4 linked regions of the Homo sapiens genome follow. The protein of the gene in region 2 purifies or fractionates together with the protein of the main gene of each other region. This does not show direct contact. Each region holds a gene or a part of one and is shown on either strand. Other genes may lie near its edges.

Evidence for each region. Proteins that work in one complex are often made in the same cells at the same time.
Region 1: the proteins of THADA (region 2) and VSIG1 purify together in Homo sapiens (co-immunoprecipitation; one large-scale study listed by IntAct). This does not show direct contact.
Region 3: the proteins of THADA (region 2) and TMEM9B purify together in Homo sapiens (co-immunoprecipitation; one large-scale study listed by IntAct). This does not show direct contact.
Region 4: the proteins of THADA (region 2) and HTR1E purify together in Homo sapiens (co-immunoprecipitation; one large-scale study listed by IntAct). This does not show direct contact.

Annotation. Positions count from the first base shown.
Region 1 is NC_000023.11:108,046,917-108,052,178, reverse strand, and holds part of VSIG1 (V-set and immunoglobulin domain-containing protein 1 isoform 2 precursor), read right to left. Parts: intron 1-5,262.
Region 2 is NC_000002.12:43,229,419-43,234,024, forward strand, and holds the end of THADA (tRNA (32-2'-O)-methyltransferase regulator THADA), read right to left. Parts: intron 3,465-4,606; coding exon 3,295-3,464; intron 1,926-3,294; coding exon 1,530-1,925; 3' UTR 1,433-1,529; downstream 1-1,432. UniProt on the Homo sapiens protein: Together with methyltransferase FTSJ1, methylates the 2'-O-ribose of nucleotides at position 32 of the anticodon loop of substrate tRNAs.
Region 3 is NC_000011.10:8,950,329-8,955,590, reverse strand, and holds part of TMEM9B (transmembrane protein 9B isoform a precursor), read left to right. Parts: intron 1-2,253; coding exon 2,254-2,388; intron 2,389-5,262. UniProt on the Homo sapiens protein: Enhances production of pro-inflammatory cytokines induced by TNF, IL1B, and TLR ligands. Has a role in TNF activation of both the NF-kappaB and MAPK pathways.
Region 4 is NC_000006.12:87,012,706-87,017,793, reverse strand, and holds the end of HTR1E (5-hydroxytryptamine receptor 1E), read right to left. Parts: intron 2,645-5,088; 5' UTR 2,460-2,644; coding exon 1,362-2,459; 3' UTR 1,115-1,361; downstream 1-1,114. UniProt on the Homo sapiens protein: G-protein coupled receptor for 5-hydroxytryptamine (serotonin). Also functions as a receptor for various alkaloids and psychoactive substances.

The sequences.
Region 1 (5,262 bases), on a different chromosome or scaffold from region 2:
TGCCCCCATTACCCGAACAGTGTACACTGTACCCAATGTGTAGACTAAAATCTTATGCTTTTAGCAGTTTTGAAATGCACATACATTATTATCAACTATGGTGAGCATGCTGCAAAATAGGTCTTAAAAACTTATTCCTCTTGTCTAACTGGAACTTTGTACCCTTTGGTCAACTTCTCCCCATTTCCCACTCCCTCCAAGCCACAGTCCCTGGTAACCATTCTACTCTAATTCTGAGTTCAACTCTTTTAGATCTCACATATAAGTGAGATTATGTGGTGTTTGTCTTTCTGTGTCTGGCTTGCTTCACTTAGCATAATGTCCCCCAGGTTCATTCATGCTGTAGCAAATGACAGAATTTCCTTCTTTCTTATATTTTTATAACTTCTTTTTCTTTTCTGCAAGTTTCCTTTTTTTTCTTTATTTGTTTTAAGATAATGTTAATTGATTGTTGAGGCATTTTTATGATGGCTACTTTGAAATCCTTGTCAGATAATTCCAACATCGAACTCATCTTAATGTTGGCAGTAGTTGCCTTTTCTCAGTCAAGTTGTGATTTACTTGATTCTTGGTATGACAGATGATTTTTGATTGAACATTTTGTCTACTATGTTAGGAAACTCATATTTACATTTTTTATTTTTGCAGTCAGTCACATTATTTATGCTTCACATGCAAGCAGGTGTTGGCTTACTTTTGTGGTCTGTTGTTCTAACAGCAGTTTAATTTTCAGTATTGTTTTGCTCTGTTTGGTTTATCGGATATCACTGAGGCTGACATTTGTCCCAGATCATATCGCCTGAAGGAGCAGAAAGGTTTCCCTAGGTCAGGCTTCCAGGTGCCTCTCAGTTGGGGTAGGTATGGTGGGACACTTCTACTGGCGCCCTGCACTGTTGGTGTCTCTATGGGTAGGAGAGGACAGTCATACACCCACTGAGACAGAGCCTTCCCAGACTGGGCCGCTTGCCATCACTTTATGCCTCGTGTCTGTTCTACCCTCCCACCTCGATATCTCTAGGTGAAAGTGGGACATCTCAGGCCTGGGGAGAAGGCAAATGCTTCTTTTGTCCACTGTTGTTGGTGGGGTTTCTGAAGATCCCCCCTTACCTGTGGTGTTGGGCCTACCTGATGTTGTCAGAGGGACTCTGAGGGAGGAGTAAGCTTACCTGGGCTGCCCTCTGTTGTTCAGTTGGGTATCAGGAATGGCCAGGACTAGGTTTCTTTCTTCTGCTGGGTGGGAAACATAGGATACCCTTGCTCTTTGTTTTTCCCTGGGTCTCAAACCAGTTTGCCTTCTCCTTACAACCTTCCAGAGTTCTACCCTGGTTGTCTCTTGCATTATTTCCAGGGTTTATACTTGTGCTTAGCAGGGAGGAACAATGAAAAACAGGTCTGTACTACATGTCCAGACCAGAAATCTCCCTCAGTTTTTAAGAGTGTAAAATTGTCCTGAGACCACAAATTTTGAGAACTGTTGGCCTTACAGAAAGATGAAGTAATTAAGCTCCCCATAGGATTTGGAGGCCCACCGAAGGGCACCCTACCCAAATCCAGCCTGCCACTACACTAAAATTCTCAGTTCTATATGAGCACTTTCCAAAGGGCTATTTTAGGTGATGGCACTTTGGGGAGCACTATACAGTCACTGTCTTATCTTATTAACTGGTTGCTATGCATTGCATTGTCGAAGACTATAAAAGTTCTCCAGGATGGGTCACGGGATTGGCAGGCAAGCACTGGAAGAGAAAGTCAAGTTCAAGAGACGCTCTCTATGCTGTCCTAGTTGCCTGCAGGGTAACAGAGGGTGTTGGAGGGTTGAGGGTGAAGGGATGAGGATACAGAAATTATGAAAGATTCAGAGGAAATTGCATAGAGGGACTAATTCCTGTCCATCTTCCCAATTTTGCATACCCAAAGACTTATTTATTTCATATTTTTCTTACTTAATGACAGCAGTCAGACAAAAAGAACTTAAAGGATTGACAAACACTTTTAAAAAGTAAAAGAAAAAAAATCGTTGTACTGATTACTCTTGGTTTCATGGATTCAATATCTGTGTTCTCTGTCACAGCCAGGTCACCTGGTCCAGCTGCTTTCCTGCCAGAAGCTGGCTGTTTACATGGCAACCAATGCACTGATAAATTAAGAAAAGTGCCTGAATGCAAACAAAAATGCAGCACTTTTTAACTCCATACAGTTTCCCTCTTCCCAATATTCTCCTCCCCATGCTTTCCTGGTTTCCATAATGCCTCCTCCAAAAAGGAAATTGGCTTTCAGAAAGCAGCTAATCTTTCCAACAAAAACTTCACTGGAGAAAGATGGTTCCCTCCCACCCTCAAAGAGCCCATTTCATTTCTCCTGGAAGTTAGCCACATCTCTGGCCGTGCTTAAATGATGACTTCCAAATGTCTTTAAAGTGTCCAAAATAAAAAGGATAAAACTGGGGTTTTGGTAGCCCTTAAAGTTCCCAGACTTATTCCCTAAAAACAGAGATTTTAGAGATATTATTTGGCCATAATTTTTGTTCTCTAGTTTGGGACCCAGTATCTGTTACGAGATTGGTTAAGGGTGAGAATTTATGAACAGATAAGGCAAAACAATAAACAAAACCCCACAAACCCCCTTTGAAGACCACTCTTGGAAAAAGTGTTTGATGGCAGAGTACACACAGTACTCACACAAGTCAAGCCATGGAAGAGGCTGTGGAGCCTAGCAACAAATATCAATTGAGCACCCATTTTGTGCCACAAACAGTGCTGAACACTGGGGAAACAAGAATGAACATGACAGACACAATCTCTGCCATCCCTCAGTGCAGCAGGAAGCCATTTATAGCACAGATGAGAATAGAGGTGAATGAAAATCAAGGATTTGGAAAATATAAATCTGATTCAAACATTTCTAACATTTTAAATATAGAAGATATATAAATGTGTAACTAATTAGAAATCTGCAAAAGTTTAATAATATCACCTTGGAATTAGGATGGTAATTTCAAATTTTAAAGTGAGACAATATTTTTTGAGGTACTACACATTGTCATGTAAATAAGTAACAGTTGGCAAAGCAAAACCTCCAGGCCATTTTATTGCCCAGATTCCCAATTCTTAGCACCATAACCAATTAAATTCTGAAGAAAAGATGTTTTTCAGACATTGTCCAACCATGATATAGTGATGATATGCTTCAGAGCTAAAAGTTATATATTTCCAGATGAGCCTTTTTAAAATGTCACATCATTCAATTAGTGCACATTACTTAAAACCTCTGAGCTCACCCTTACAGTGCTGTCCAACAGAACTTCCTGTGATGATGGAAATGTTCTATCTCTGCGCCATCCAGTTCAGTAGCCCAAATAGAATTATCAAACACTTGAAATGTGGCTAGTGAAACTGAGGAACTGACTTTATAATTTTCATTAATCTGAAGTGATTTAAATTTCAATAGCCACATGTAGACAATGGGCAGTGCAAACTTAGTCCTAAAGTGGAGGTGATTCTCTGAGTGTCAGGGAAAAAAGTTCCCTTCCTTTGGATTAAGTCATTCTAAGTTGAGAAATTATTTAAAAATTGAATAAGTCAGAAAAATCTCTACATCAATAGGACTGTGAATAAATAGCAAAGTAAAGATTAGTATCTGATTTAAACAAAACCCAAGAACGCAATGTCCCTCTCTGACTTGACCAAATTTAAAAACAAAACAAAAATGCATATGTGGTTGAAATATGTGTAATCTCTTTTAAAAACCAGTGCTTACCTGCACGTTGTGCACATGTATCCTAAAACTTAAAGTATAATAATAATTAAAAAAGTGCTTATTATTAAAGAAAAATAATCCAAGATGTACACACTTAATCAACATTTAAAAATATTTTTAGGCTGGGCGCAGTGGCTCACGCCTGTAATCCCAACACTTTGGGAGGCTGAGGTGGGCGGGTCGCCTGAGGTTGGGAGTTCAAGACCAGCCTGACCAACATGGAGAAACCCTGTCTCTACCAAAAATACAAAATTAGCCGGGCGTGGTGGTGCATGCCTGTAATCCCAGCTACTCAGGAGGCTGAGGCAGTAGAATCACTTGAACCCGGAAGGCGGAAGTTGCGGTGGGCCGAGATCGTGCCATTGCACTCCAGCCTGGGCAACAAGACTTAACTTCGTCTCAAAAGAATATATATATGTGTATATATATATATATATATATATATATATATATATATATATGTGTGTGTATATATATATATATATGTGTATATATATATATGTGTATATATATATGTGTATATATATATATGTGTGTATATATATATATGTGTATATATATATGTGTATATATATATGTATATATATATGTGTATATATATGTATATATATATGTATATATATATATATATAGAGAGAGAGAGAGAGAGAGAGAGAGAATGTCTTGTATTTTGGTGGTGATTGTTCATTCATTTAATGCCTACAAGGTGGCAAACATTTTGCTTATAGAAGGATTATTATCCTCCTAATGTACCACAGCAAAATATCCCCCAAATATTCATATTTAATCTGATAGATTTGAAGTGATTTAATTTCCAGCAACTTCATATATAATAGATTCATTTTGACTTAGGAAATAATATAATCAAATGATCACTCACTTTTTTGGATTTGAGTGCAAACTCAAAGTTCAAATATATTACTCCTTTAAAATGCATAGCATATACCTCCAGAAAATGAAACCCACATTAACATATCTTTCTAAGAGGTGACTAATACATATTTCAAATACCTAAAATGATATGCATAAATTTTTTGCAGAAGTTTGATTAAAACTCGTTTTCCTGAATTAGAATTTAACCTAAGAATTCCTAAGAAGTCATTGAAAATATTTTGATTTAAGCAAAATCTGACCTGTTTAGTTATATCAAAATCAATTTTAAATATGTATGTGAAAATGATGTCTGGATGTTTGGAATTTGGGAAAGTAATTCATTCTTTCAACAAACATTTACTATGCATCCACTATGTGTTAGGCACCACGCTTAACACCAAAAAGTGACATTCTCTCCAAAACAAGTCCAGGAAGAACATCAAATTGCACATTGATGGAAACACTATCAGTTGTCCAGATCAACTGATGAACACTGCTAATGACAGGTGTAGATTACTAAAGTGATCCTTTCTCTGACTTCAATACATATGTAAGCACAGCAAACGACAATAGAGCATACCACAATTTGCTGTACTGACACTACTGCTTTGGGCCAACTAGATAATATGTGTG
Region 2 (4,606 bases):
GCCCCTTCAGACTCTGTGAAACATCAATGAAATTACTCTAAGTGATCATTTACCTGAGTACTTTTTTTTTTTTACAGACCCTAAAATCTGGAGCAAATTTACATACTATGAAATGTTTTTTTCAGATCAGTAGGATGAAAAATGAATGCGGATGAAGCTACTACCCTTCCAAAGCTATGATTCTCAAGATAACTATTAGTGGGTAACACTTATTCTGAAATTATAAATGAAAAATGGTGAGCCAGTGAAAAACTGGACCAGCAGCAAAACGTTTGCAAGAGCGCCACCTGCTGGATGTGTGAGGAAGAGGGCTGGGCTGGGCTTGAAAAGGAAGAAAATCATTAAGGTTTCTAGATTAAAATCACTGCAAAGGATGTGAGAGAGAGAGAGAGAGAGTGAGAGTGTGTGTGTGTGTGTGTGTTTGAGTGTTTGAGACGAGTCTCACTCTGTCGCCCAGGCTGGAGTGCAGTGGTGCGATCTCGGCTCACTGCAACCTCCGCTTCCCGGGTTCAAGCAATTCTCTGCCTCAGCCTCCCGAGTGGCTGGGATTACAGGCGCCCACCACCACGCCCAGCTAATTTTTTTTGCATTTTTTGTAGAGACGGGGGTTTCACCATCTTGACCAGGCTGGTCTTGAACTCCTGACCTTGTGATCCACCCGCCTCAGCCTCCCAACATGCTGGGATTACAGGTGTGAAACACCGCGCCCAGCTGATAAATGTGTTTAATGGCATTTTAAGTGAGACACTTGTTACTGCCACCAAGCGATAGGTAAACAATGTAGGCACAGAATAAGTCATTTTCTCTGACTCTCCTTTCCCCAGGTTCCTCCTCACAGCTAAGAGGACGGATATACTTTCACTGGGTGGCAAAATCAGGTTTCCTAGCATTAGCATACTTTTTGGGGGGTAGGGGAAATGCTCAATGGCTCTTTGAATAATTAGGATGGAATGTGTAGGTCACTGCAGGACTTAACACATGCAGACAATAAAAATAAATTATTTGTGCAAAGTTGATCCTGAATTCTCCCAGGATCCAACATTTGGAACATATTTCTGCTTTGCTAAAATGGAACAAAATTCACAAATCTGACCAAATGGGCTGTTTGCCAACTAATCCAGCCCCTACATAAAGCCAGAAAAGGGGAGAGGGGAGGGATCATGTGTATGTGCTAAAATCCAACTCTCTGTAGTCATTTCACAGAGAATGCAGGGCGGCTATGGCAGGGCATTAGAGGCCCTGGGGGATGAAAAAGGCTCATTCAGGCCTGCAGGTGGCCTGCACCTGGGGACAGAGTAAATCTGCAACGGAGTCGCCTCACTTCCTACAGTAGCAGCAATAAAATAGGCTGCCCTGAATGAGTGAACTGAAGAAAAGTTTCTCTGTAAGGAGTGACAGACGACTGGACTCACAGAAGTAGGGGAGGCATGAATGGGATAAAATTTTTGAATTTATGTTCAACATGTTTCCTGCAGATTTAGTGGAGGAAAAATCCACACATACCCCCATCCCAATCCCCCAGATTTTCTTCAACATGCCGCTTCTGTTCTTGGAAGAGTTAACTGCCTCGATTCTGCATAAGAGTCCCAAACACTGAGAACTAGGGTGTCTTCCCCTTCCTTTCCTTCCAAAAAGGCCAGCAGCCTCAAGCAAGCCAAAGTCCTTTCCTCTTGAATGCGTAGTCTTGTGAACTCCACTGTCTTCACAAACTCAGCAGCTGGTGGAAGCTCTCTGAAGAACTGAGACAGGAGGTGGCACTGCTCTGACACCATCCTTTGAAGGTGACAGAGCATCTCAGGGCTTGGGGGACGCCAGCCGGACTTTGAGAGGAGACAGAAGAGGTGCTTGCAGAGGTATTTCACAAAGATCAGGGTCTCGGCCCAAAAGTTGACTTCTGCTTTTTCAAACAGGTAGTCTTCTTCCACCTAAATCAGATGAAAAAGCCGAAAGTCAGTCTTACAGGGAATGGTGACAAGCCCCAGTCCAGACCAAGCAGTACCCTGCCAGATGCAAGAGGGGTTTCCCTTCCCCCACCTGACAGAGGGTGCACTCTTGCCTGTCAACATCCATGTACACACACCACTTGCAGCCTTGAAGGTCACCTTCTATTTTCACTCACTGTATTTCTCCACCAGAGAGGAATTTTTTCCCCAGACTTAACATGACCTTGGATAAAGATGTGTTTGTGGTTCAAAGTCAAGATACTTTGGGGGATGGATGCTGAAAAGGGGACTTCAACAAGGGAGTGGGCTCTAGAGTTTAAGGTGCAGCTGGAAATTGGAGAGGAGGGAGGAAAGGTCATCTCTGCAGCAGGCCAGAGAGGAAGGAATCTCCAAACACAGGACACTAGGCTGTGTCCTGTTTCTATAACACTGTGATTCTCAAGGTCCTTTTGTCAGACACTTACCATGTCTCCAAATTTCTCATAAAGAGGGACAATGCGTTTTGAACCCTTGGCCTGCTGGGGATGCCAAGAAGGCCAGCTGAGTCAGATGCTGGTGGCGATCAATTTCAGTTCTCAGGATGCTTTTGCTGCTTGTCTTTGTCCTCAGTTTCCCTATCTGTGACTGCACCCACCCTGGAGGGGGCTAATAATAGTTTTCTTCAAGCAGGAAGTTCCCAGCAAAGATCCTAATTCTCTGAAAATGCTTCACCCTCAGACCTAACTTTGGGAAGCCCCAGGCTAACTCCAATACTGACTAACAAGCAGTCTCCATAATAAAACTCTCCGCATCCAGGGGCTTCTTTTTTTCTTTTCTTTTCTTTTCTTTTTTTTTTGAGATGGAGTCTTGCTCTGTTGCCCAGGCTGGAGTGCAGTGGTGCAATCTCGGCTCACTGCAACCTCCGCCTCCCAGGTTCACGCCATTCTCCTGCCTCAGCCTCCCGAGTAGCTGGGACTACAGGCACCCACCACCATGCCCGGCTAATTTTTTGTATTTTTAGTAGAGACGGGGTTTCACCGTGTTAGCCAGGATGGTCTCGATCTCCTGACCTCATGATCCGCCTGCCTTGGCCTCCCAAAGTGCTGGGATTACAAGCATGAGCCGCTGTGCCCGGCCAGGGGCTTCTTTCCGAGTTCTCTCCCCTGGCTAAGCTGGAGGCTGACCATCAGCACCCCAGAAGTCAGCCTAAGAGTGTCCCCGTGTCCTCGGCAGCACCCAGTGGGTGACTTTCCTAGTGGTTCCTGCTCTGTGTCTAAGCATGCAAAAGCCCAGCTGAGGCTGTAGGTGCTGCATCTAGCGGGTTTAGGACACTCCAACCCTGCCTCCTACTCCCCTGACACCCCGGGATCACCTGATGCATGCTCTCCACACAGGCCACGAGGTCATCACTCTCTCCCAACAGCCATCCCAGCAGGATGGGCAGTCCAGGGGCCAACTGGTCCCACTGCTGGAGCAGATCACACAGGACGGCCAGGGCCAGGGCCAGAGCGATGGAGGCATCCACCTGGCAGAAGGCAAACTCTGCAAAGACAGGAGAAAGGTGAGCAATGAATATACTGCTCAGGGCCGACCCCAGGGCAGCCTGCAGGACCCTGGGAACAATAAAGGCCTCAGGTAAAATCGCTGCCACCAGCCTGGCAGGGAAGCTGGTAGGGTGGGCTCACTGGAGACGATTAATCACCTTCTGAATCCTGCTATTTATACTGTTAGAATGAGTCATAGGCCTGAACCCACTGTTTCCATGCCCCCTAACTCAGTGTGGACAGAAGCAGTTCCATCTGCAGGATTAGAGAGTTATCTCCCCTCTGCTCCTCCAGTGTCACCAGAAGGATCAGGAAGGCTTCCCTGTCCAGTGTCTCCTCTGCACATCTGCCTGGATTTGACTGGTTTGCCCTTTCCTTGGAAAGCAGATCTCTTGGGCACAAGACACATCCTAGAGCAGGGCATCGGCAAGCTTTTCCTTAAAGGGCCAGAGAGTCAATATTTTAGACTTTGCAAGCCTATACCTCCTCACCTCGGCTGAAAGCAGCCATGGACAATCTGTAAACAAATGGTTGTGGCTGTGTTCCAATAAAACTTTATTTATGGACACTGAAATTTGAATTTAATGTGTCACAAAATATTATTTTTTCCCAACCAATTAAAAATGTAAAAACCATTGATAGCTCATGGGCTGTAAAAAGCAGGTGGTAGGCTGCATTTGGCTCCTATTTTGCTGCCCTCTGTCTCGGAGTTTTTTGTTTTTGGACCCTTGTTTTCCTGGGTGCTTGGAGGAAGGGCACTGAAAGAATAGAAGGGTGCAGAAAGAGGAAGCAGGGGGCCTTGGGGAAACCATTGCTTATTTCAACATTTGGCCTTAGACAATCCTAAATATGGGTTTGGAGGGAGGCTCAGGGGTGTTGTCACTTCCCCTAACAACTCTGCCCCTCCCATCCCAAACCTGGAGGGTGTCTGAAACACGGGACTGAAAGCCCACTGCACAATGGACCTCTGTAGGCCCATCTTGCACCAACTGACATTGAAAGGCCTGTCTTTCAATGATGCATTTCTATTGAGCCCTGATCACTCCCAAATCCACATCTCTAACTTGAGCACACAGACTTACCCTGACCATCTGGCCCCCGAAAGACTTACTCGGCACACAGGCAGACGACCGAGAATCT
Region 3 (5,262 bases), on a different chromosome or scaffold from region 2:
GGACTGCACATGTGAGGGATCTAGGCTGCATGCTCCTTATGAGAATGAGAATCTAATGCCTGATGATCTGTCACTGACTCCCATCACCCCCATATGGGACCGTCTAGTTGCAGGAAAACAAGCTCAGGGCTCCCACTGATTCTATGTTATGGTGAACTGTATAATTATTTCATTATATATTATAATGTAATAATAATAGAAATAAAGTGCACAATAAATGTAATGTGCTAGAATCATACCCAAACCATCCCCTACCACCCCTGGTCCATGAAAAAATTGTCTTCCATGAAACTGGTCCCGTCCCTGGTGCCAAAAAGGTTGTGGAGTATTGCTGTAGTAAATGGGATGTAGATCACTCTCATCACCATTTGTATTTCTAATGAGTTCAGTTACTTTATTATAGTGGCTAATGGTTTTTCTTCCAATTTTTTTTTTTTTTTGAGATGGAGTCTTGCTCTATTGCCCAGGCTGGAGTGCAGTGGTGTAATCTTGGCTCACTGCAACCTCCGCCTCCTGGGTCCAAGCGATTCTCCTGCCTCAGCCTCCTGAGTAGCTGGGATTACAGGCATGCACCACCACGCCCAGCTAATTTTTGTATTTTTAGTAGAGACAGGATTTCACCATGTTGGTCAGGCTGGTCTCGAACTCCTGACCTCGTGGTCCACCCATCTTGGCCTCCCAAAGTGCTGGGATTGCAGGTGTGAGCCACCGCGCCTGGCCTAATTTTTTTTTACATGGCACTTCCCATTCCTTTCCCCCCAAAAGGCCCTGTGGGGAATGTGGGGTGGTTAGTTATAATAGTCACAAACATTTCTGCTGTGATTGACCCTGTGGAAGAGCTCTTGCTCCAGCAGGGTGCTGAACTTTAGATAAATCCTCACTGTACTATTATTTAACAGATTTGTAAAAAATATACAACTTATGTACCCTAAAAGTCACTCACTATAAGTATACAATTCTATAAATTTTAGTAGATTTAAAACATTTTAAAATCCAGTTTCAGGCCAGGCATGGTGGCTCACATCTATAATCCCAGCACTTTGGAAGTCCGAGGCGGGTGGATCACTTGAGGTCAGGAGTTCGAGACCAGCCTGTCCAACGTGGTGAAACCCCATCTCTACTAAAAATATAAAAATTAGCCAGGTGTGGTGGCACGCACCTGTAGTCCCAGCTACTTGGGAGGCTACGGCATGAGAATCACTTGATCCTGGAGGCAGAGGTTGCAGTGAGCTGAGATCGTGCCACTGCACTCCAGTGAGACTCTGTCTCAAAAAAAAAAAAATAAAATCCAGTTTCAGAACATTCCCACTACCCCAAAAAGATCCCTCATGCCCATTTACAGTTAATTCCCATTTCCAGCCCTACTCGGTCACTAGTCTACTTTCTGTCTCTGCATACATGGACATTTCATGTATATGGAATCATATAATATATAGTCTTCTGTGACTGGCTTCTTTCATTTAGCACAATGTTTTTGATGTTTATGCAAGTTGTAGCATGTATCAGTACTTCGTTTCTTTTTATTGCTGAATAGTATTTCACTATATGAATATGCATTTATCAGTTGATGGACGTTTGGATTATGTCTGGGTTTTTACTATTATGAATAATACTGTTGTGAATATCTGCACATATGTCTTTGTATGGATATATATGTTTTCCATTCTCTTGGGTTAATTCCTTAGAATGGTAAAATTATGTTTAACTTTTTAAGAGACTGCCAGATTGTTTCCCAAAGTGGTTGTACCACTTTACATTCCCACCACAGCGTATGAGGGCTGTTTCTCCATATCCTTGCTAATACTTGGTATTGTCTATTTATTTTATTGTAGTCCTTCTAGTGGGTGTGTCACACTGTACTTTTTCTCAGTACATGAATTAAGGTCACAAGAAAAAATCACCGGCCTAGAAAATACTTTTGTATATCTAAATTGAGCTAAAGAGTAGCTGAATTTAGGACATTATGTTCAGCTGGGAAAAGAAACAAACTGCTGTGCTAGCAGTGGTGACAGGTGATTAGCAGTAGGTGAAGTTGGAGTCTTGAAGACTTGCAAAAAAATCCCAAAGATCTTTCCTCTTTTTTTCTTAAATAATACTTTGGTGAAGAGTTGAGTTTATTTCTTATATTGCTATCTGGTTTGTATAGAAATCCTATAGGCTTAGCAGATATGTCAGTCAGTTTTACTATTATCATACAAAGTTCTGATTTATGGGCTTGAACAAAGATGTAACTTAATTTTCAATTTCCTTTAGGTTACCATTATAATTTATCTCTCCATTTTGGGCCTTCTACTTCTGTACATGGTATATCTTACTCTGGTTGAGCCCATACTGAAGAGGCGCCTCTTTGGACATGCACAGTTGATACAGAGTGATGATGATATTGGGGTAAGTTCCCAGCCTGCCCTAGCTGCTCATGGCCAGTCCCTGTCATCATTCGATGTGAAGTGCAAGTGAAAAATAGTCATATATAGATGTTCACGTGCTGAAGCAGATCCTCAACTAGAGAAGCTAAAAACAGCTCTGATTTCAGTATATACCTCTTTATGAAGAAATTGCTTGATGAAGCCATAAATGTGATGATTTAAACGATGATCTTTGGTGAGCATGCTATACAGGGCCTTGCTTTCAGTACCAAAGGCACAATTTTATTGCCATTCCCTGTTTACATTGAGAAAAGTATCAGAGATGGTTTTCTCTCCAAGCTCTCCTGCCTGAAACACCTTCTCTGTCAATATCACCAAATATTTTAGAAGGCAGAGAGGTTTTCATCAAGGGAAGTGTGAAGATCATGATGTTCTTTTCTTAATGAAGTACAACTTGATAACCTGCTGATGTTTTATATTTCCTTTTTTTCTACTGCTTAAAAAAAAATCTGTGGGCCAGGTGTGGGGGCATACACCTGTAATCCCAGCACTTTGGGAGGCCAAGGTGGGAGGATCACTTGAGCCCAGGAGTTCAAGACCACCCTGGTCAACATGGTGAGACCCTGTCTCTACAAAAAATAAAAGCATTAGCCGGGTGTGGTGGTGCATGCCTGTGGTCCCAACTATTCAGGAGGCTGAGACAGGAGTGTCACTTGACCCCAGGAGTTTGAGGCTGCAGAACTGTGATCACACCATAGGACTCCAGCCTAAGCAACACAGCAAGAAGCCTGTTTAAAAAAAAAGAAAAAAAAAATCTGAGATCTTTAGAGAAAAATAAAACCATGACTACCATCACTCCAGATTCTCTTCCTGTCTTTAAATCTCTCACACACACACACACACACGTGTGTACATTATATATGTTTATATATATATATATATAGCGTGTGTGTGTGTGTGTGTGTGTGTGTGTGTATATAGTTGGCATAATCTGTATAAATTGCTTCATGGTCTCCTTTTTGTTTTAATATTCGTTTATTCAAAAATGTCCAGAAATTGACTTAGTCCACAAATCTGTTTTTCAGTGTAGCTTAGAGAATGTTTTTTTTGTTTTTTGAGACGGAGTCTCACTCTGTCGCCCATGCTGGAGTGCAGTGGCGTGACTTTGGCTCACTACAACCTCAGCCTCCCAAGTTCAAGCAATTCTCCTGCCTCAGCCTCCCAGGTAGCTGGTTCTACAGGCACCTGCCACCACGCCTGGCTAATTTTTTTTGTATTTTTAGTAGAGACGGAGTTTCACCATTTTGGCCAGGCTGCTCTTGAACTCCTGACCTCAAGTGATCAGCTCGCCTCGGCCTCCCAAAGTGCTGGGATTACAGGTGTGAGCCACTGCGCCTGGCTGGATATTTTTGTTTCATCATTACCCTGTATGAAATTGTTTCTGAATTTTCCTTTTTTTTTTTTTTTGAGACGCAGTCTCGCTCTGTTGCCCCGGCTGGACTGCAGTGGTGCGATCTCAGCGCACTGCAAGCTCCGCCTCCCGGGTTCACGCCATTCTCCTGCCTCAGCCTCCCAAGTAGCTGGAACTACAGGCGCCCGCCATCGCGCCCGGCTAATTTTTCGTATTTTTTTTTTCTAGTAGAGACGGGGTTTCACTGTGTTAGCCAGGATGGTCTCAATCTCCTGACCTCATGATCCCCCTGCCTCGGCCTCCCAAAGTGCTGGGATTACAGGCGTGAGCCACCGCACCCAGCTGAATTTTCCATTCTTTCATTATTATATATAATTATTTTTTTAGAAATTACTTTTTCTCGTGGATTATTATATTGGACTATGTTCCTTAAAATGGGTAAAATTCAGAATAGTTTTAAGGTTCAATTCAAAAGCCAAACCCAGAGTGAGCCCTTGCCAGCCAGTCAAAAGTCCTTTTACCCTGGAATGGCTCGTGCATCTATAGGCATAGACGTTGAAAGTCTTAAACGACATCCTTCCTTTACAGCGTTAAATATCTGTTCCTGATTTCAGAAATAGACAATATAATAACACAAAACATAAGAGAAATGGATGTAGAGATGAAAACATGTAGGGCAGGCATTTAATTGGTGGGATCACATGCTCAGTAATTGTTTTGTCCACCAGTGATTGATTCTGCTTGTGTATTGACTATTTGAGAACACTGTCTCTGTGAGGCCTGGCTGACTCTTGGATGTCTTTTAAACTGATTCTAGGCAGAGAGGTTTTCTGACCAGAGCTGTGAATTTATGGTAACAACTCTACAAAAATAAGTGAATTTTAATTTTTAAAACTGTTGCTTATCCAAGATGTGAGTTCTGCACTATTTATATACTTTAAAAATGTTTTTGTTGAACTATCAGTTTTCATTTTTTCTGTTTTTGTTCAGTGTAGAGCATTTTAAAGCAAATAAAAGTGAGTACAAATAGTTAAGCTCACTGCAAGTAGTCACAATATTTACTATATCATATATCCATGACACATCATCGTTATTACCAAAGCATTACAGTAAAACATGTTTTGTATTTATTGTAATTTTATCAGGTGTGAAAAGAACAAACATAAAAAGGGTAAATCTCTATTTGCATTCCCCCAGCATCTGTGACCATGAGCAGCTAGTTCAATCTCGTTCTGATGGATAGAGAGCAGACCCAAAGGATTAGCTGGTTTGTTTAGTCTTTTGAACTTGTTCCTTAAGAAGATTTTTCTCCCCTACCTTGAAGAATAGATAACAGCACTAGGCAACTGAGAGGTCCTCTGCCGATCAAGTACATCCTTCTTCCCAGTATTGCTTATGTCAAAACAAACCAATGGTGATAATATTTTCCTCCTCTGGTCCTTGACTTCAGGGGATGATATTTTATACACAAATTCACTGAAGCAC
Region 4 (5,088 bases), on a different chromosome or scaffold from region 2:
GAGACGCAATTTCATTCTCATATCCTGATGAGTGGCCTTTGGTGTAAACACAGTTTTTCAACTTTTACTTTTTTTCCCCAAGAGCACAACTGGTAATTTTTTTTTTTTTTTTGAGACAGGGTCTCATTCTGTTGCCTAGGCTGGAGTGCAGTGGCATGATCTCTTCTCAGTGCAACCTCTGCCTCCCAGGTTCAAGTCATTTTCCTGCCTCAGCCTCCTGAGTAGCTGGGATTACAGGCACGTGCCACCATGCCTGGCTAATTTTTGCCCTTTTAGCAGAAATGGGGCTTCACCATGTTGGCCAGCTTGGTCTCGAACTCCTGACCTCAGGTGATGCACCTGCCTTGGCCTCCCGAAGTGCTGGGATTACAGGCGTGAGCCACCACGCCCGGCTGCAACTGGTAATTTAATGAGTAATAGTCTCCAATGAAGTTCTTCAGATAATATATTCTGTCATTTGATCACTGCACCTCATTAAGCTTCTTAAAAAGTTTCCCAAATTTGACATGTACTCCTACCTTTGTCCTGCTACAGTGAAAGTGTATATGGGTGGCTTAGCTGGGATAGATTTTAGAATTGGAGGAGGCCCAATGTGTCTGTCAGGTAATATTGCAACACACTGACCAAAGTAGATTTAGATGACTTGTTATTTGCTTTATGTTTTATATTCATAGTAAAAGACATAGAAAAGTGCCAGTGCATTTATTCCAGGTATTTCCATTTTAGAAAAAGAGGAAGTTTATTTAATCATGAACTAAAAAGGACAAGCCAGCTGTACTATTTTTACCTGAAATGAATAGGCTATGTAGTCACAGTGCTACAGCAAACGACTTTAGCTCAGGTCTGCAAGCAGTAGATGACAGCACATCACTTTCTTTTAATTCTTTATGTAGTCATGCAATTCCCACTGGAATATGTACGCAGATAGAGCCATAATCTCAGATTTAATGCCATGGAGGGCATTATCAGGTATTTAATTTATAAGTAATAAGAAATTCTGCAAATAAAGATATTTTTGGCATTCTTTAATTGCAGGGTAACTGAAATGGCTAAAAAAAAAAAACCCATAAAAGGTATTTAGTATTTCATCTTATTATTACTTCTACAAAATTTCTGTTTTTGTATGATAATGTTTATTTGAAATTATGTATCACAGATAAGACCAGAGGTAGAAAACAGCACGCCAAATAACAATCCTCAAACAAAACAGAACAAAACAAACAAACAAACAAGGAAACAAGACCACACATACTTACAAACTCTCCTGAACCAAGTATGTTCAAGAATTAATAAGTTGCACCCCTTACCCCCATCCACTCATGAGGCTCTGGAAAAAGTCGTGCCTTTTAGCTTTTTACAGTCTAAGTATGCTCTCGGCATCTAATGAGCTTTTTAAAAGCCAGCTTAAAGTCTTCATTAAAACTCGTATAGAGCAGAGGGTTGATCAGAGAATTCACATAACCGAGCCACGTCAGAAAGTCGGCCACTTCCGAGGACACGGTGTAGATGCTCAGACCCACAATCAACTCTTTGATGAAAAATGGCAGCCAGGATAAAATGAATGCACCCAGAATCAGCCCCAGGATGCGTGCTGCCTTCCGTTCCCTGGTGCTAGAGATCTGCTGACGTTCTCCTGGGTGATCTAGATCATTGTCGAAGGGGGGGATCCTGATGGAGGCATGGAACTTTTCAAACTCTGTGGTAGGGTCTGAGGTGGAGAAGTCAGACACACAGAAAGTCTGTGTAAGTTTACAACTTGCAAAAGAATTCTGGCTATCTGTGCTTCTGTTGCTTAAGTGCCGACTTGATCCCCTTTTCTGGTAAAGGCTCTTGGCCGCGTGGTAAATCCGGTAATAGAGAATCAGTATCAAAGTCAAGGGGATATAAAACGCACCCAGCGTGGAGTAAATGGTGTAGATAACATGGTCGTGCTGGATGGTGCACTGACTAGGGGGAGGGCTTAGGCGGCGGTGGCTTCTCCAGAACAGAGGGGGCATGGAGATGAAAATGGAGATGGTCCAGACGGTAAGGATCATCAGCGCGGCCCTCTTGGCCGTCCTCTTCCTGGCGTATTCAATAGCATTGGTGATGGCCCAGTACCTGTCCAGGGCAATGACACAGAGGTGGAGGATGGAGCAGGTGCAGCAGGTCATGTCCACACTCAGCCACACCTCACAGAGGAAGTACCCAAGCTTCCAGCGATCCATGACAATGTAGATGATGCTCAGGGGCATGACGAGCACTGCCACCAGGAGGTCCGTCACGGCCAGAGAACAGATTAGGTAGTTGGCAGGCTGGTGGAGCTTCTTGGTGGTGCCAATAGCCATGATCACAGCCAAGTTCAGCAACGTGGTGAGGGTGGTGATGACCACCAGAGTCATGCAAATGAGCATCTTCTCAGTGATGGTCTTGGGTCTTATAGCCATGCTGGCCTCTGTGGTACAGTTTGTGATGTTCATGTTTCCCTTGTTTCAGTCTACACTGTGGAGAAGCTGTTGGTTATTTTCCTTTGGCTGAAAACTATGTAGCCTCGAAGGTTTCTCACTTGTAAGGAGGCTATAATTTGTTCAGCTATGTGGTCTCTTGTGTTCCATTTTCTGTTGGTAAAGGGAAGGGCCACAGCATTTCTTCTGAGTGAAGGTTCCTGGAAAATATTATGCTATTGGTTAATGAATGAGAAAGCCACACTTTTCCTGGAAAACATGAAAATAGTTTGATATTTATAAATTCTTTATAAATTTTAATTTTCTCTTTCCTGTGGAACTTGAGCTCATCGTTACATTGTTCCTCAAAGGATACTTTTTTTACTTCAGGGAAGTTTTCAAACTGTTTTTTTTTAAATTATACTTTAAGTTCTGGGATACATGTGCAGAACTTGCAGGTTTGCTACATAGGTATACATGTGCCATGGTGGTTTGCTGCACCCAACAACCAATCATCTACATTAGGTACTTCTCCTAATGCCATCCCTCCCCTAGCCCTCCACCCCCCAACAGGCCCTGGTGTGTCATGTTCCCGGCCCTGTGCCCATGTGTTCTCATTGTTCAACTCCCACTCGTGAGTGAGAGCATGTGGTGTTTGGTTTTCTGTTCCTGTGTTAGTTTGTTGAGAATATGGTTTCCAACTCATCCATGTCCCTGCAAAGGACATGAACTCATCCTTTTTTATGGCTGCATAGTATTCCATGATGTATATGTGCCACATTTTCTTTATCCAGTCTATCACTGATGGGCATTTGGGTTGGTTCCAAGTCTTTGCTATTGTGAATAGTGCTGCAATAAACATACATGTCCATGTGTCTTTAGAGTAGAATAATTTAAAATCCTTTGGGTATATACCCAGTAATAGGATTGCTGAGTCAAATGTTATTTCTGGTTCTGGAACCTTGAGGAATCGCCATACTGTCTTCCACAATGGTTGATCTAATTTACACTCCCACCAACAGTGTAAAAGCATTCCTATTTCTTCACATCCTTTCCAGCATCTGTTGCTTCCTGCCTTATTATTATTATTATTATTATTATTATTATTATTATTATACTTTAAGTTCTAGGGTACAGGTGCACAACATGCAGGTTTGTTACATATGTATACATGTGCCGTGTTGGTTTGCTGCATCCTTTAACTCGTCATTTACATTAGGTATTTCTCCTAATGCTATCACTCCCCCGTCCCCCGACCCCACGACAGGCCCGGGTGTGTGGTGTTCCCTGCCCTGTGTCCAGGTGTTCTCATTGTTCAATTCCCACCTATGAGTGAGAACATGTGGTGTCTGGTTTTCTGTCCTTGCGATAGTTTGCTCAGAATGATGGCTTTTTAATGATCACCATTCTAACTGGCGTGAAATGGTATCTCATTGTGGTTTTGATTTGCATTTCTCTAATGACAGTGATGATGAGCTTTTTTTCATATGTTTGTTGGTTGCATAAATGTTTTCTTTTGAGAAGTGGCTGTTCATATCCTTCGCCCACTTTTTGATGGGGTTGTTTGTTTTTTTCCTATAAATTTGTTCAAATCGTTTTTGACAAAAACATCACAAAATTTTAAATGTACTTTGCCACCCCAATTAATTTCTTATTTATATTTATTCTTTTATACATGTTTATATATAAAAAGGCTTTTTTTTACATTTGAAAATATATATTCATATTATGTAACATTAAACATTCTGGGGCCGTTAAAGAAAAAATTATATTGCTTATAATAAGCAGCTTTCAAATCAGATTTTAAACTTTCACAGTAAATATGCTGGCGTGGTGGCTCACACCTGTAATCCCAGCACTTTGGAAAGTTAACTGCAATAATCAGAGCTAAAAATGGATACATCCTATGAGGAGTTGATGGAGGACCTTTTTGGGGATTTGTAACTTTAAATTTCCACTTTATTGTGACATAAAAAATATCATGAGTCCAAGGCCATATTTAAATTGTTTTTCATAAAAATTACAAATAGGAGAGAATTACTCTAAACCAAACTGGTTAGTGTACGCTGCTCCTCATTTCCAGGGATACTCTAGAGCCTCTGCTTTATACCATCCCAGTGAAGGTCAGAGCACCAGGGAGATGAGGTTATAGGGATGATAGATGTTAAGGCCGACTTTGGCATATTATTCTTCTGGGGCTTTGTCCTTTGCAGCAGATGAAGAGGGACAAGAATCTCTTTCTCATCCAGGAAGAGTTTCCAAAGCACCTAAGCATTATCAAGAAGGAGGAGTCAGCTGGCACCTGCTCATCTTAAAAATTATCTTAAAGAGGGTTTTATATTTTGGATCTGGTTCCTCCATTAGAAAACTGACATTTCACTTCATAAGTCCTGATTTACTTTAACCTAAAAAGTGTGCCTGAGTCAGCGGTTTTGGAGAGAAAGCTTGGAGTGGTGACTACCCACATGGACTCTGAATGCTGACCCTGCCACTTGTCAGCTGCAGTGTAATCCTAAGCATGTTCTTTAACGTTAGCCTGCTTCAATTTCCTCCTCTTTAAATCAGGAATAATGACATCTTTCTCTAAAGTAAGTAGTGTGAAGATCAAATGTGTTAATACACGTAGAAGCTGAGAACAACGCCTAATACATAGTAAGTACTATGT